2 separate regions of the Homo sapiens genome follow, and region 2 is linked to region 1. A link means that fine-mapping ties the variant in region 1 to the expression of a gene that starts in the linked region. Tissue or cell type: whole blood. Region 1 holds a variant in brackets; the other region holds the start of a gene. All regions are shown on one strand. Distances are from middle to middle.

What was found. PIP is the estimated chance that this variant, and not a neighbour inherited with it, causes the effect.
Region 2: CD164 starts here. The variant in region 1 is fine-mapped to the expression of CD164 in whole blood (TOPMed, PIP 0.91).

What each region holds. Positions count from the first base shown.
Region 1 is chr6:109,408,948-109,417,210 of GRCh38, forward strand. All of the region lies in intron 6 of PPIL6 (peptidylprolyl isomerase like 6), which reads right to left. Among named protein-coding and RNA genes, the nearest start is that of PPIL6, 28 kb to the right of the region's middle. The variant G/A (reference allele first, on the strand shown) is at 3,154.
Region 2 is chr6:109,378,722-109,386,721 of GRCh38, forward strand. It overlaps CD164 (CD164 molecule), which reads right to left and starts at 3,746. Exons shown (of 6, transcript NM_006016.6): 1 at 3,483-3,746; 2 at 858-941. The coding sequence starts at 3,657. RefSeq lists a silencer at 3,204-3,483 and enhancers at 3,639-4,148, 3,704-4,053, 4,134-4,363.

The DNA.
Region 1 (8,263 bases):
GAATACTGATGCAAAAGTCCTCAACAAAATACTTACAAACCAAATTCAACAATACATTAAAAGGGCCATTCATCATGACCAAGCAGGACTTATCCTTGAGATGCAAGGATGGTTCAATGTATGCAAATCAATCAATGTGATATCGACAAAATGAAGGATAAAAACCATATGATCATTTCAATTAATGCTGAAAAAGCATTTGATAAAATTCACATCCCTTCATGATTAAAAACCCTCAAAAGACTGGGTATAGTTCTCCTAGTACTATGTAGCTAGAGCAACCAGACAAGAGAAAGAAATAAAGGGGGTCCAAATTGGAAAGAAAGAGGTCAGGTCAGGTGCGGTGGCTCACGCCTGTAATCCCAGCACTTTGGAAGGCCAAGGCAGGCGGATCACTTGAGGTCAGGAGTTCCAGACAAGCCTGGCCAACATGGTGAAACCCCATCTCTATTAAAAATACAAAAAAATTAGCCAGGCAGGGCGGCAGGTGCCTGTAATCCCAGCTACTCAGGAGGCTGAGGCAGGAGAATCACTTGAACCCAGGAGGCAGAGGTTGCAGTGAGCTGAGATCACGCCACTGCACCCCAGCCTGGGCGACAGTGTCGTGAGACTCCATCTCAAAAAAAAAAAAGAAAGAGGTCAAATTATCCTTGTTTATAGATTACATGATCTCATATTTAGAAAAACCTACAGACTCCACACAAAAGTCTATTAGAACTGATAAATAAATTTAGTAAAGTTGCAAGATACAAAAACATACAAAAATCAATAGCATTTCTATATGCCAACACTGAACAATCTGAAAAAGAAATCTAAAAAGTAAACCCATTTACAAATAAAACTAAATTAATAGGAATTAACCAAAGTGAAAAATCTCTACAATGAAAACTATACAACACTGATGAAAGAAACTGAAGAGGATGCCCCAAAAATGGAAAGCTATTTCATGTTCATAGGCTAGAAGAATCAATATTATTTAAAATGTCCATACTATCCAAAGCAATCTAGAGTCAATGCAATCTCTATCAAAATACCAATGACAGCCCACTAGCAGGGTGGCCATAGTGCCATCTGCCTCGTGTAGGGCCCGCTTCTCTGACCAGCAGACCCATGGATTACCACCTGATGCAAGCCCCTCCCACTGAGGCAGCCTCGCTGAGCCCATCGCAGCTGAGGTATCCTGGAGAGATCTTCACCCGTGTCCCATGTGGAAGATCAGTTGGCACCATTTCTGCTGGAGCTTTAATATTTTTCTTCTTCCTGATTATAATACTTATTTTCTGTAGCTTTAGCCAAGCTCCTGGGAAACACCTCTTTTGTCCTTGTTGGGTGTAGAGGCCATGCTAAGGCCCAACGGAACACCATGTTGTCACTGTTCATCCTGTTTGCTCTCCTAATCACCTTGGTCCAGTATGGGTGGGAACACAACTCTATAATAAATATTTCGACAAGTATTGCATCAGGGAATCATCTTCATGGCTGCTGGATTGTCATGAACATTCCCAGGATAGAGAGTTCTGTCTTCTGGCTTACCTAAGAAACCTCACTACCATCCCCGCTGACCTCCTAAAATAGTGATCTTCAAATCCCAAACTCCTACTTGTTGAATGGAACTCTCCCCCACTTAACGGATTCCACTTGAACCCCCTGCCAACATTACCTGGACCTGGGAAATTGGGTATCTATATCTCTAGCGCACTAATGATTCTATCTTTTGCATTCACTGTTGTGTTCATGACACAAGAGTGGAAGCCTCCCTGTGATGCTCTGATTCAACTTTAGTTGCCACATTCCCAAGGCCACAGCAAGGTAAATGGGATTCTACTTGTAAGTGAGGAGACCACATATGGTGCCTTCTGGATCAGAACATATAAGGGAAAAACAACTGCCTAGTCTGGGAAGGTGGGAGTACTGCCCCCTTCCAGAAAACAAAGGGTGTCCCGCCACCCCCATCGGAACAGGGGAAAAATATCTCTCTAGACACAATTTCACAGTAAAGCATAAATACCACATCCCAATAGGGCTTCTGTTTGTGCCCCAACCGGCTCATTTTTGTTTGTGGCATGAATGGGAAGAAGTTACAACCTGAACTGCTCCCAACTCCCTAGGAAGTCACCTTTTCCCTTAGGAGTAGCTTTCCCTTGTATATCAAAAACTTGGAACAGAGGTGAATGTATGCTGGCCACTCTTGCCCCTCCAGGAGTCACTGTCTATAACCGCATAACACCCAAGAATACCAGAAGTAAGTGAGTAATAGGAGTAATTCTGGCAGGAATTGGCAGTGATAGGACTAGCAGCACCCCGGGGCAGCTTTGCCTACCATGAGCCAACTCTAATGAACTTGACTCAATCCCTAGAATCCTTAGCCACCAACACAGGTCAGGCATTAAAGGGAATTCAAGAGTCCTTAGGCTCTTTGGCAAATGCAGTTCTCATTAACAGACTAGCATTGGATTATTTACTAGCTGAACATGGTGGAGTCTGTGTAGTTATTAATAAAACCTGCTGCACATATTTTAACAACTCTAGGCAAGTTGAGATTAACATTCAAAAGATCTATGAACAAGCTACCTGGTTACACAGATATAACCAGGGCACTGACCCCAACTATAGCTGGTCAATTATCAAGTGCTTTCCCAAGTCTCACCTGGTTTTTACCTCTCATAGAACCTTGGATAGTTATCTTCTTGTTTCCAATTTTTGGCCCTTGCTTATTTAACCTCTTAGTAAAAGTTTGTGTTTTCTAGATTACAACAGTTCCAGGTAAAAAACAATGCTGGCACAAGGCTTCCAACCTATCCCATCTACTGACCTGGAGAATGAAAGTGTCCTGCCTGTGGGCCCGTTACAACAGGTATCCAGAGATTTTTTTACTCCTCCAGTGCTAGGCAGGGCCTATGGCCATGAGCTCAGCAGCAAGCAGTTACAGAAGACTGGCCTTCACCCTTCTGCAGCCCTCTTAATATTAAGGAGGAGGATCTAATTTCTGAGGGGAAAATGAGGTAGGAGGCAGGACTTGACTCCAGAGGTGGGGCTCAGATTGAGGACTCCAGAGGTGGGGATCAGATTGAGGACTAGCTAAAATAGGGCCAGGGCGAAAGCACCTTTCAATCAGACCTGTCCATCAATGTGCCATGTCAATCTACTGTTGCC[G/A]AGGCAACACCTGGGAGTTACTGGCCTTTTCCATGGCATCTAATGATCCAAAAGTTACTATCCCTTTCCTGCATAAACTGCCCCTTAATCTCATGCAATTAAAAGTGGGTATAAATGTGACTGTAAAACTGTCCTGAGCTGCTACTCTCTGCCTACAGGGTAGCTCTGCTCTGCAGGAGCAGTCACAGAGCTATAACACCACTGGAGCTGTAACACTGCCTGTTCAATAAAGCTGTTTTCTTCTAAAAAGGAATTACCAATGACATTCTTCATGGAAATAGAAAAAACAATCCTAAAATTTACATGGAGCCATGAAAGACCCCGAATAGCTAAAGCTATCTTAAGCAAAAAGAACAAAACGGAAGGAATCACATTACCTGACTTCAAATTATACTACAGAGCTATAGTAACCAAAACAGCATGATACTGGCATAAAAACAGACACATAGACCATCAGAACACAATAGAGAACCCAGAAACAAATCCACAAACTCATAGTGAACTCACTTTCAACAAAGGTGCCAAGAACATAAGCTGAGGAAAAGACTTCAATAAATAATGCTGGGAAAACTGGATATCCATATGCAAAAGAGTGAAACTAGACCCCTACCTCTCACCATATATAAAAATAAAATCAAAATGGATTAAAGACTTAAATCTAAGCCCTCAAACTATGAAACTACTACAAGAAAACATCGAGGAAACTCTCTGGACAAATGGGATCATATCAAGTTAAAAAGATTCTGCACAACAAAGGAAACAACAAAGTGAAGACATGGCTGGGCGTGGTAGCTCACACCTGTAATTCCAGCACTTTGGGAGGCTGAGGCAGGTGGATCACGAGGTCAGGAGTTCAAGACCAGCCTGGCCAACATGGTGAAACCCTGTCTCTACTAAAAATACAAAAATTAGCCAGGTGTAGTTATGTGCGCCTCTAATCCCAGCTATTTGGGAGGCTGAGGGAGGAGAATTGCTTGAACCCAGGCAGCGGAGGTTGCAGTGAGCTGAGATGGCACCACTGCATTCTATCCTGGGTGACAGAGTGAGACTCTGTCTCAAAACAAACAAACAAACAAACAAAAACCCACAGAAAATATTTGCAAACTACCCATCTGACGAGGGATTAATAACCAGAATATATAAGGAGCTCAAACAACTCTACAGGAAAAAACCTAATAATCAGATTATAAAATGGGCAAAAGATTTGAACAGACATTTCTCAAAAGAAGACATACAAATGGCAAACAGGCATATGAAAAGGTGCTCAACACCACTGATCATCAGAGAAACGTAAACCCAAACTACAACGAGATATCTCACTCCAGTTAAAATGGCTTTTATCCAAAAGACAGGCAATAACAAATGCTGGCAAGGATGTGGAGAAAAAGGGACCCTTGTACACTGTTGGTGGGAATGTAAACTAATGTGCAACCACTATGGAGAACAGTTTGGAGGTTCCTCAAAAAACTAAAAATAGAGCTACCATATGATCCAGGAATCTCACTGCTGGGTATATACCCAAAAGAAAGGAAATCATTATATCAAAGAGATACCTGCACTCCTATGTTTGTTGCAGCACTGTTTACAATTGCCAAGATTTGGAAGCTACCTAAGTGTCCATCAACAGAAGAATGGATAAAGAAAATGTGGTACATATACACAATGGAATACTATTCAGCCATAAAAAAGAATGAGATCCAGTCATTTGCAACAACATGGATGGGACTGGAGGTCATTATGCTAAGTGAAATAAGCCAGGCACAGAAAGACAAACATAACATGTTCTCATTTATTTGTGAGATCTAAAAATCAAAACAAATAAAATCATGGAGACGAGAGTAGAAGGATGGTTACCAGAAACTGGGAAGGGTAGTGAGGGTTAAAGGAGGGTGGTGAGGATGGTTAATAGGCACAAAAAAAAAGAAAAAATGAGTAAGACCTCGTATTTGATAGAACAAGAGGGCAACTATAGTCAATAATAATTGTACCTTTTAAAATAAAAGTGTATAATTGGATTGTAACACACAGAATAACTGCTTGAGGAGATGGATACCCTATTTTATATGATGTGATAATTTCACATTGCTTGCCTGTACCAAAATATCTCAGGTACCTCATAAAGATACACACCTACTATGTACCCACAAAAATTAAAGCAAACAAAAAAATTCCTCTGCCTACCTTGTACTTCTTTTAGGACATATGTTGTATTTTTATTTCCTCTTATGTTCCTTGTAGTTTACTCACTTCTGAAATTATTTTTCTTTCATTGCTTTCCTCAGCCCTTCTTTCCTCAGCTCTGTTGCATCATGTTTTTTTCTAATTCTGATTTATGAGCTCTTTCATGTCTTGTATCATTTTCTTAATGTCTTTTAGCTTTTTTTTTTTTTTTTTTTTTTTTTGAGACAAGGTCTTGCTCTGTTGCCCAGGCTGGAGTGCAGTGGTGCAATCTTGGCTCACTGCAGCCTCTGCCTCCCAGGCTCAAGCAATCTTCCCACCTCAGCCTCCCAGGTAGCTAGGATTACAGGTGTGTGCCACTATGCCCAGCTAATTTTTGTATTTTTTGTAGAGATGGGGTTTGCCATGTTGCCCAGGCTTCTTTTAGCTTATTTTGATATAGACTGTTACAGTTTTGATCTACAGTTGACCCTTAAACAATGCGGGGGGTTAGGGACACCAACCCCTCGGAGCAGTCAAAAATCCACATATAACTTTTGACTCCCCAGTGACTTAACTACTAATAGTCTGCAATGGACTAGATGCCTTATCAATAACATAAATAGTCGATTACATATATTTGGTGTGTTACATGTATTGTATACTGTATCCTTACAATAAAATAAGCTAGAGAAAATAAAATGTTATAAAGAAAATCATAAGGAAGAGAAAATATATCTACTATTCATTAAGTGGAAGTGGATCATCATAACAGTCTTCATCCTTGTCACACTGAGTAGGCTGAGGAGGAGGAAGAGAAGGAGTTGGTCTTGCTGTCTCAGGGTGGCAGAGGCAGAGAGGTGGACGAGGTAGAAGGGGAGGCAGGAAAGGTGGTCACACTCAGTGTTAACTTTACGGAAATACATTATAATTTGTTTGACTTTTTGCTTTTTCATTTCTCTAGCAATGTTTCCATACAGTATCAATCCTTATTCCACTCTTTGCTTTAGTTTCATTGCTCTTATCATAAAAGGGTCTATGTTGTAAAAGAAGTCAAAAGTAGTCTTGAGTAACTGGAACCCTTCCGCCAGATTGTCTAGTGTCAGTTTGTTTCCTGACACTGCTCCTTCTACGTCTTCTTCCTCATGATCTGGCACTGGTTCGGAGGCACTCATCTCTATCAACTCATCTTTGAATGCCTCTGCTGTGGTATATATTAGGCCTTGAATTTCTCCAAGATCCATATCTTGACAACGTTCACCCCTCATCTTTTTTGCCATATCCACAAATCTCTTTGATGATTTCCTTGATGGGCTCTGTCATAAATCCCGTGAAGTCAAGCACAACATCTGGGCACAATTTTCTCCAGCGGAAACTTGTTTTGAGCTTGATGGCTTTCATGGCTTTTTCTATAACGACAATAGCATCTTGAATGGTATAATCCTTCCAGACTTTCATGACGTTCTTTCTATTGGGGTTCTCTTCCATAATGTTGACAATCCTTTCCATAGAGTACCATGTGTAATCAGCCTTAAAGGTCCTTATGACCCCCTGACTAGAGGCTGAATTAGACATGTTGTGTTTGGGGACTAGTAGACCACTTTGATGCCTTTGGTGTTGAACTCATGGTGTTCTGGTGGCCAGGGGCATCATTGTTCAATATCAAAAGAACTTTTTAAAAGGTAGTCCCTTACTGGCAAGGTACTTCCTAACTTCAGGGAGAATGTATTGATGTAACCAATCTAGAAAAAGGGTTCTCATTGTCCAGGCCTTTTTGTACAACCAAAAGGCTGGCAGTTGGTGTTTAGGTTAGCAGCTTTATGGTTAGGAGCAGTCTGGATCATAAACCCAACTGCATTGGCACACAACAGTACAGTTAGCCTATTCCTTCCTGCCTTAAATGATAGTGCTTGCTTCTCTTACTAATAAATGTCTTTTGTGGCTTTTTTTTTTTTTTTTTTTGAGACAAGAGTCTTACTCTGTCTCCTAGGCTGGAGTGCAGTGGCGTGATCTCGGCTCACTGCAACCTCTGCCTCCCGAGTTCAAGTGATTCTCCTGCCTCAGTCTCCCAAGTAGCTGGGATTACAGGCACCTGCCATCACTCCCAGCTAAATTTTATATTTTCAGTAGAGACAGGGTTTCACCATGTTGGCCAGGCTGGTCTTGAACTCCTGACCTCAGGTGATCCACCCGCCTCAGCCTCCCAAAGTGCTGGGATTACAGGTGTGAGCCACTGCGCCTGGCCTTTTTGTGGCTTTTTTTTTTTTTTTTCCAGAATAGGTCACTTTTGTCTGCCATAAAACTTGTTCAGGTAGATATCCTTTTTCTTCTCATTTTGTTAATGACATCTTGGAATTTATCTTCTGCCTCTTGGTCAGAAGAAGCTGCTTCTCCTGTTATCTGGACATTTTTAAAGCCAAACTTTTTTCTAAAATTATCAAACCATCTTTTGCTGGAATTAAATTATCCAGTTTTAGATCTTTTACCTTCCTTTTGCTTTAAGTTGTCATATAATAGCTTTGATTTTTCTCAAATCATATTAGAGTCTACAGGTCTGCCTTTCTTATAGCCATCCTGTGCCCACATAAAAGCTGCATTTTCAATACAAGACAAAAAAGGTATTTTGCAGGCTAGGCTTGGTGGCTCACACTTGTAATCCCAATGACTCAGAAGGCCAACTCAGGAGGACCACTTGAGCCCAGGAGTTGGAGACCAGCTTGGACAACAGAGCAAGACCCCATCTCTACAAATCTTTTTTTTAAAATTAGCCAGCGTGGTGGCATGCACCTGTAGTCCTAGTTACCTGGGAGGTTGAGGCAGGAGGATCCCTTAAGCCCAGGAGTTTAAGGTTACCATGAGCTATGATCACGCCATTGCACTTTAGCCTGGACGACAAAGTGAGATCCTGTCTCTTAAAAAAAAAAAAAAGAAAAAAAAAGGTAAAAGTATTTCA
Region 2 (8,000 bases), 30 kb before region 1:
ATCCCATTTTATGACCTAAAAAAAAGAGACACTTCTATAACAAAAAAGTTAATTTGGCCCAATTTAGTTAATACCTTAAAGAGCTTTTTGAAATTTATGTAGTGATATAATTTCTAGAACTATTAAAATTTTTACCAAATAAAAAAACTTATGGTTTGTTTTTACTTAAAAAAAAAACCGCCAAAACAACTAGATTGTTTTACTGATAAGTGCAACCACTTTACATTAAAAAACAATTAAAATAATGTATGCAGTAATATGGTTCTAATAAGAATCTTATTGAATTTCAATGTACGTCCCTTTAGCGCTCTACCTCTTGTATTAACAAAAGCACAGGAAGTCAACTCTCCCTACCTCTTTCTTCTCTACACCTAAGCATCCAACAGTTTCATAAGGTCTCTTTATATTTCATGTTGCAGGACACAGTTTTCAACACAACCTTCACTCACAGCTAATTCCAGTGTATTAAAGTACTCTCAATCCTTAGAACAGGCTTTAAAAAAAGCCAGGTGAGGAAGCACGCATCTGTAGTCTTGGCTACTAGGGAGGCCAAGGTTGGAGGATTGCTTGAGCCTAGGATTTCAAGACCAACCTGGGTAACACAGGAGACTCCATCTCATAAAAAACAAACGACTGAGCTTTAATTATCAAGTCTTAAGGAATCTAAAGGGAGGATGGGAGACAAAAAGAGATTTTCAGGGGGAGTGCGAGGCAACTGGCACTTTAAAGGAGTACTGGATTTGCAAAATAAATAGTGCACAATATCCTAAATGTCCTACATAACTTTCAAGTGTTCAAGAATTACTGTATTTTAAAATGCTATAACAAAACAGTTTTGCATCCCCAAAGTTTCTTACCTTTACATTCTATCCAAAAGCAGGTAGTATTAACAACGCTAACATTAAAACAGGAAACGCAGCTGTTTCGACCTTCACAGGTTTCTGGGGAGTTGGGGGGAGAGATGCATGAAATCAATGATTTTATTAGTATCTTATTTGAATCTGTATTACTTATCTTTTTGAACAATAAGCATTACATACAGCATCAAAATTACTAATTCAGATAAATGATAAAACTTTATACTGGTTTACTAAGAAATTCCAATCATTACAAAGCTGTAAGTAAACGCATTAGAAAAACAAGCTAGTGGTCACTCTCAGTACAGTGCCTGATGGTATCTGTCTAACCAATCCTTTTTCACAGGACAACTATTGGAAGACACCCACAGCCACTAAGGATTTAGGCATTTCAAAGCATCCTTAATACATAAAAATATCGAGAAAAAGGCTTTGATATAATACCAACACTACACATAGGAAAACCACTACCCCCAAACATCAGATAAAACCCTGAGATTTTTAGTAGTAACAGTAGTAGTTTAACAGGTTGAACCCAAGCACTGATGATGCCCATTCTGCTGCAAACAAAGATAATTTCCCAGGGATTCTCGATTCATAAATGATCCACTCTCGACAGGATCCTCCACAACTGGAGACAACATCTAAAAGCCCATATTCAAGTGCATACAATTCAGGTTAACAAGGTATTTGTCAATAGTTCATCCTAGGCCAAACAATCCAGAAACAAGTACTCATCACCATAATTCAATTTCTGGAGAAGAACGGACTATAAAATTGGGCTCTATTTTCCAGTGAGAAAAAGCAGCAAAATAAAAGAAAAAAAAGAATTGGGCTCCATTCATTTTCCTAGAAACTAGATGCCTCCAAACATTCTCGTTTGCTTTGCTCCTGCCTAAAAAATAGTTCTGCAGAGGCACTGCTTTCAATACTTCATCATTAGTACTTATTAAAGACTGGGACATGTACGGTGGGGTGGGGAAGGGTTCATAAAGTAAAAATAAATTTTCTGAAGTTTGTATAGATAAAACATGCTGTTTAAAAACCTTTGTGCTTGACGGGTGTAGCAAAGTGAAATGTCTGAAATGTTCTTTACAATGAACTAAACTTGCTACCTTTCAGACCACACTACATCCACTTATGATTTCCAGAAAATACATACCTCCTTTGCACGCACTTCAATTACACAAAGACAAATTAATTTGATACTTCCAACCTTCTCTTACACACACACTACAATTCTGAAAGGAAACTGTCAAATTAAGACTGAGACAAACATATTCTGCTCTATCATCTTAAAATAGTGCGGTTAGAATTCCCAGTATTATACTGCAATTTACTTCCCTCGTTTTGAAATGTTACCATTACATCTTCCTTAAACTAAAAACAAAACATTAAGTTTACTATATACTTTATTAAACTTTTATAAAATACTAAAACTAGAGGAGAATTTGTAGAATATGAATGCCGTGATAAAAATCATTACACTTCGGCATTCTTCGGTCAAGAAGCCAATGTTAACTACGTAAACATTACTCCTTAACTAATGTTAACTAGAATAACCAATCATACGAGACTGCAGGTTTTAAACCTCTAGTGTTTCTCCCGCTTATTACCTCAAACTTATCTTCCTTCTCTCTTTTGTGTTGTCACGGTATATGGCAATTTCTGCTTTAAAATGTATGTATGCCTTAACCAGCCCTATGCGACTGCACATAACAAAAGACACGCTCCTGATCGGGTTTTAGAAAACCCACAGACCTGGGCACAAACCCCCGTTCCACGACCTACTAAACATACGCTATCTGAGCACAGGACATAGTTAAGAAAATTTTAAAAACAATTGAAAAAAGAATAAACATACAATGTCAGGAGAGTTTACTCATCTCCGTCTCTGCATCTACCTCCTAGGTTTCACTACCTACCTTCCAGTTTAGCCTTAGGATACGTACGCAAAACACCCGGTACATACATGGGTACTTTTCTTCCTTTTCGCATACTTTGAAGTGTGAAGTTTTCACTAACTACGTGCTCAAACGTCAGCTACATTCTATTCCTATCTGCAAAACCAATGTAATTAAATCTCAAGCGACCTTCTCAGACTCAAGTCTGAGACACGAACGAGCATTACCGTCTTTAAGTTTCTCTTTCCCGGACTTCCGGAGAAGGCTACCTCCGGAGAGAGGCGCCGGGAGGGTGAACAACCAGTGGCAGGGAGAGGCAGCTCGGCCCCACCGCCAACCTCAGAGGCGCGACGCCCGGCCCCATCCTCAACCCCACCGCTGCCCCCGCGGAAGGAAGCCACGTCCCCATTTCCGACCCCAAGTGAGGCTAGGAATTACGATGCACTTTTAAAAGGCACCTCGACTTGCAACACTTCGAGGGGGGCCCCAGCCCCGCAGCCACTGGGAACCGCGCGTCCGCTTCCCCCCAGCGCGCTCCCCACCCGGCCCGGCCACGAGTGGACTCCAGGCTGGCCGCCATGTTGCCGGAGTCGCCGCCGCACCCCGAGCGCGGCCCGCCCGCCCGACCGTGGCCCGAACCCGGGCCCCGCCCGCACGGCGAGGAGGCAGTGCGGCTCGGCTGGGCAGGGGAGGGCGGGAAGCCCACAGGGCCCGCGCCCACCTGGTGCCGGAGTGGTGACCAGCGGGAGGGACGTCACCGGCGCCGAGGTTACGTTGGAGATGGGCGCTAAAGTCGTCACGTTCGGGTGCTGGGTCGTGTTCTTGTCCGCGGACAGCACGCAGAGCACGCCCAGGCAGGTGGCGGCCCAAAGCAGTGAGCGGGAGAGCCGCGACATCGTGTCCTCAGCGCTGGCGTTCGGGAGAAAGCTAAGGCTCGCAACGCTCAGTCAACCCCTCAATCCCCTGCGGCGCCGCCTCCGAGACTACGCTCCCCCGCGGGAGCGCGCAGGGGTCACGTGAGAGGCCCCTGTTTTCGGCGTGCGGGGGCGAAGAGGAGGGAGGTGGGGCTCGGACGATACCAACGGGAATCCTACGGGGGGAAGCAGGGGAGTCGGGAGGAAGCCGAAGGAACCTGGCCCTCAAAGCGACTGTGCCACAGCCAAGAAAACTGGGAGCTTCTGCAAATCGTTCTTCTTGCCCTCAGATTACCAGACACGACGCAGCTGGACTTGTCTCATGCCTGCGATAGGGACGGCCCCCACCCTGACTTGCATGGAACAGTCGACATAATGTGGCCTACTGCTTCCACCTGAGCGCCCCGCCAGGCTGTAATTCCGCGGGCCCACGTGACCTCCGGGGCCGCGCCTTCCGGACGCAACTCCACTGGGGCGGAAGTTGGTTTTGTGCGGCTCTCAAGAACTAAGTTTGTGCTGTGCTGCGGGATCCCCAGGGAGCTTCCTTATATCTTCGGCAGGACCCCTTCTTTTTTTCTTGAAGATTGATTTTGCTAGAAGTTATCCTGTGATGGGACTCCCTAGGGGAATGGAGGCACCACGTGGTTAAGGAGTTTGTGCGTTGCCGCCCACATAGTGTGGGCAGCTGAGGCGCCGCCCGGATCAGAGCCGCAGGGCGTCTACTCTGTCACTTTCCCAACCTGACTTTTCCGGATTGCTATTTCAGACGGCGGTTGCAGCAGCCGACCTGTCTCAACTCCACCACTGTAGTCAGAGAATCAAAAGCGGTCTGAGTTGCGAGGTCATTGGGGAGGCCCCCACCCCCACATTACCAGTGAGGAAACTGAGACTTAAAAAAGTGACCTGACCTGGACACGGGATTGCCTGACATCAGAGCTGGATTCTTAAGTTCCTGTTAGTGTTAAGGCGCTGCTCAGACTTTTAGTAAAGGTGAGCGCCATCTACTGCCAAGTCTCACAAAATATTCGCAAAATTTGATACGGTTATCACATGGTAAAAATTAGACTTTAAAAGTTGTATTTAATGCTGTGTTTTCAGCTGTTGTACACTTATGTAATTTTAATTATGCAAAGTTATCCTAATAATATAGGAATATTAATTGCTTTCGTGAGGTCTGTCTTGATGTGCCACGATGACTTTTTTGATGTGCCAAAAAAGATGACTACATAGTGCTTTTACCTTTTTGCTCAAATAGAAAGATTTTATTTCCCCTTGGGATCTTTTCAGTGTCGTCCTTCTGTACCCTCAGGACTATGAACATTTGTTCCAATGACTACGCTAGTTGGAGTAGTGTTGCTTGGATGTAAACAAAAAGCTGATAGTTTTGACTGATCCAGCCCAGAAGCATGAGAATGCTGTCAGGGAAGTGAGCTCCCACCATAAGCCCTTCAGAGAAGTGTCTGCTCTTCTCTCAGGAGGCCTCTCTCTATATTTAACACTTGACTATCTGGCACCCAGACCAAATGAAAGCGCAAGGCAACTTTAATTTTTTTTTAAGGTTAAGAATGTAAATAGGGGCCGGACGCGGTGGCTCACGCCTGTAATGCCAGCACTTTGGGAGGCCAAGGCGGGTGGATCACCTGAGGTCCGGAGTTTGAGACCAGCTTGGCCAACATGGTGTAAACCCCGTCTCTCCTAAAAATACAAAAATTAGCCGGGCATGGTGGCACGTGCCTGTAATCCCAGCTACTAGCAGGGCTGAGGCAGGAGGATCGCTTGTATCCGGGAGGCGGAGGTTGCAGTGAGCCGAGATCACACCACTGCACTCCAGCTTGGGGAACAGAGCCAGACTCGTCTCAAAAAAAAAAAAAAAAAAAAAAATGTAAATAGAAGCTCTGTTCTCAGAGCTTGGTGTGTTATCTTCTTTCCACCCTAGGATAAACACACTCCTCTGTGCAGACCATTGTTTAACAATTTGTCACCTGGATGTTTAACTCTAGTCCTCAGATATTCCTCAGTCCTGATAAAGGGACATTTCACGCTCTTGTTTTAAGACTAGAAAACCATTGGTTTATTTTATTTTGCATGGCAACTGTAGAGGTAGATCAAGGGAGTTCCAAAGTCATTTTCACCATTTCAGAGAGACAGCTTTTTTTTTTTCAGTTCCTGACAGTAAGCTTCTGTTTATTGTTGTCATAGAGCAGGGTTTCTCAATCTTGGCGCTATCAAGATTTCAGGCTGACTCATTCTTGCTTGTCCTGTGCATTGTTGGATATTCGGCAGTATTCGTAGCCTCTACACACTAGATACCAGAAGCACCCCACCTCTCAGTTGTGACAACCAAAAATATCTCCCGATATTGTTAAATGTCTCCTGGGGGTAAAATCACAATTGAAAGGCACCCTCAGAGCGTTCTTCTGTGTGCAAGGTCAGCCATCACTCAGGTTATTTCCTCTTAGACACATTGCTTGCAATTAGATTGTCGATTGGTTGTTAGAGCGACCTTCTTAACCATTTATTTTCTTGAAAGCAGCAAGACAGAGTGCTTCTGCGCTTGTGAATCTTCTAGCAGTATAAGCTCCCTCTAAGTTTTTTAAACAGCAGATTTTTAAACAATGCTTCAGCCTTGTGTCAGTACCTTTCCCCAAATAAACAGATCAACACTCCAAACAGGACCCTGCCTTCTAGCTATAACTAACATCCAGTGGCCCCTTAATAATCAGAGGTTTGCCTCCACTACTTGATAGCAAGAAGTACAAACCCCCTTGTACTAGCTTATGTTAAAGGGAATCCATTCACTGTAAGAATATGACAGTAAATCTTATAGGCATTCAGGGGTGGGAAATCAAGTGTGTGAGGGCCAAGGGAGACTTGAACTTAAAAGGAGGAATCCCTAGCACGTGGAGCTGGTTTGCTAGGACTTCGTTTCAGGCTTCAACCCTACAGGACATTGCCAGATCTATAGACCCACAGCCAATCATCTCCATTGCCCAGTATTCCAGTTATATAGCTCTTGGAAGAGATAACTTGACTGAGTACCATGCCTTCCCAACCTGTCTGTTACCTACTCTCTGCTCTGACTCCATCCATGCAGTCTACACTAGAGCTCCCTGAACTTCCAGTTCTCCTAACTGGTCATGTTTTCTTTTGCATGTGGATCTTCATCCATGCTATTTCTTCTGCCTAGAACATTCTTATTCCCTTCTGGCATCTGACCAACTCCTACTTGTTTGAGGTCTCTCAGCTAAGCTGTCACTCCCATCTTAAGCTATCCTTAAAATATTCAACTACCCCTTTCTCCCCACTCCCAGACTACAAAAGGTGTTCCTGCTCTGTGCACCCTGGACTTGCCCATAACAAAGCATATACTGCATTATATAGCAGTTGTCTTTCTCACTAGATTAACTCAGAAATAGTGCTCACCAGTTTATTCCCTGCACTTAATTAAAAAAAAATGAATAAATGAACAAACTGGCTTATTTCAGTCAGTTGTCCACCCTTGCCAAAAATTAGCTGCATTAAAAAGCACAGGAGGAGCCCGGCGTAGTGGCAAGCACCTGTAATCACAGCTACTTGGGAGGTTGAGGCAGAAGAATCTATTGAACCCAGGAGGCAGAGGTTGCAGTGAGCCGAGATTGCATCACTGCCCTCCAGCCTGGGCAACAGAGTGAGACTCTGCCTCAAAAAAAAAAAAAATAAATAAATAAAATAAATAAAATAAAAGCGTAGGAGGGCAGCTGCTACAAATAACTCCCTGAACTCTTCAGCTGTGGGTCAGGGTAGATTCATCTAGAGGAGTATGGGTGGGAAACAAGGGCTGGCATCTGTAAGACAGTTTTAACAGCATATATTAAAGCTCATTTAGTAGTATTTGAATCTGTTTTGACAAAGAGAAGGATTGGAATAAATCAAATATTAGCTAAAACTGTATATTCAGAGTCTTAATATTGTGATTAAGATTAAGGGTAAAATTCTGGAGATATTGTCATTAGGAGGCTCTCCACTTTGACTGTGGATGTTTCTTTGAAAAGTGTGCCAGGGCGCCAGAGGGGAGCATTACACTTTAGAGCAGTTGTTCTTAACCCTGGCTGCACATTGGAACTACCTAGTGACATCAGTGGTGGTGGTGTGTGTTGAAAAATATTGATACTAGTGCCTGGGTACTGATTTAATTGGTCTGGAGTAATGTCTGAGCATCAGCAGTTTTAAAAGCTTCCCAGGTGTTTCTAATCTGCAGCTTAGGTGGAAAACCAGTGCTTTACTCTTGCTTTCCAGAGTGTGGTTCTCAAACCATTATCATTTATATCACCTAGAAATGCAGAACC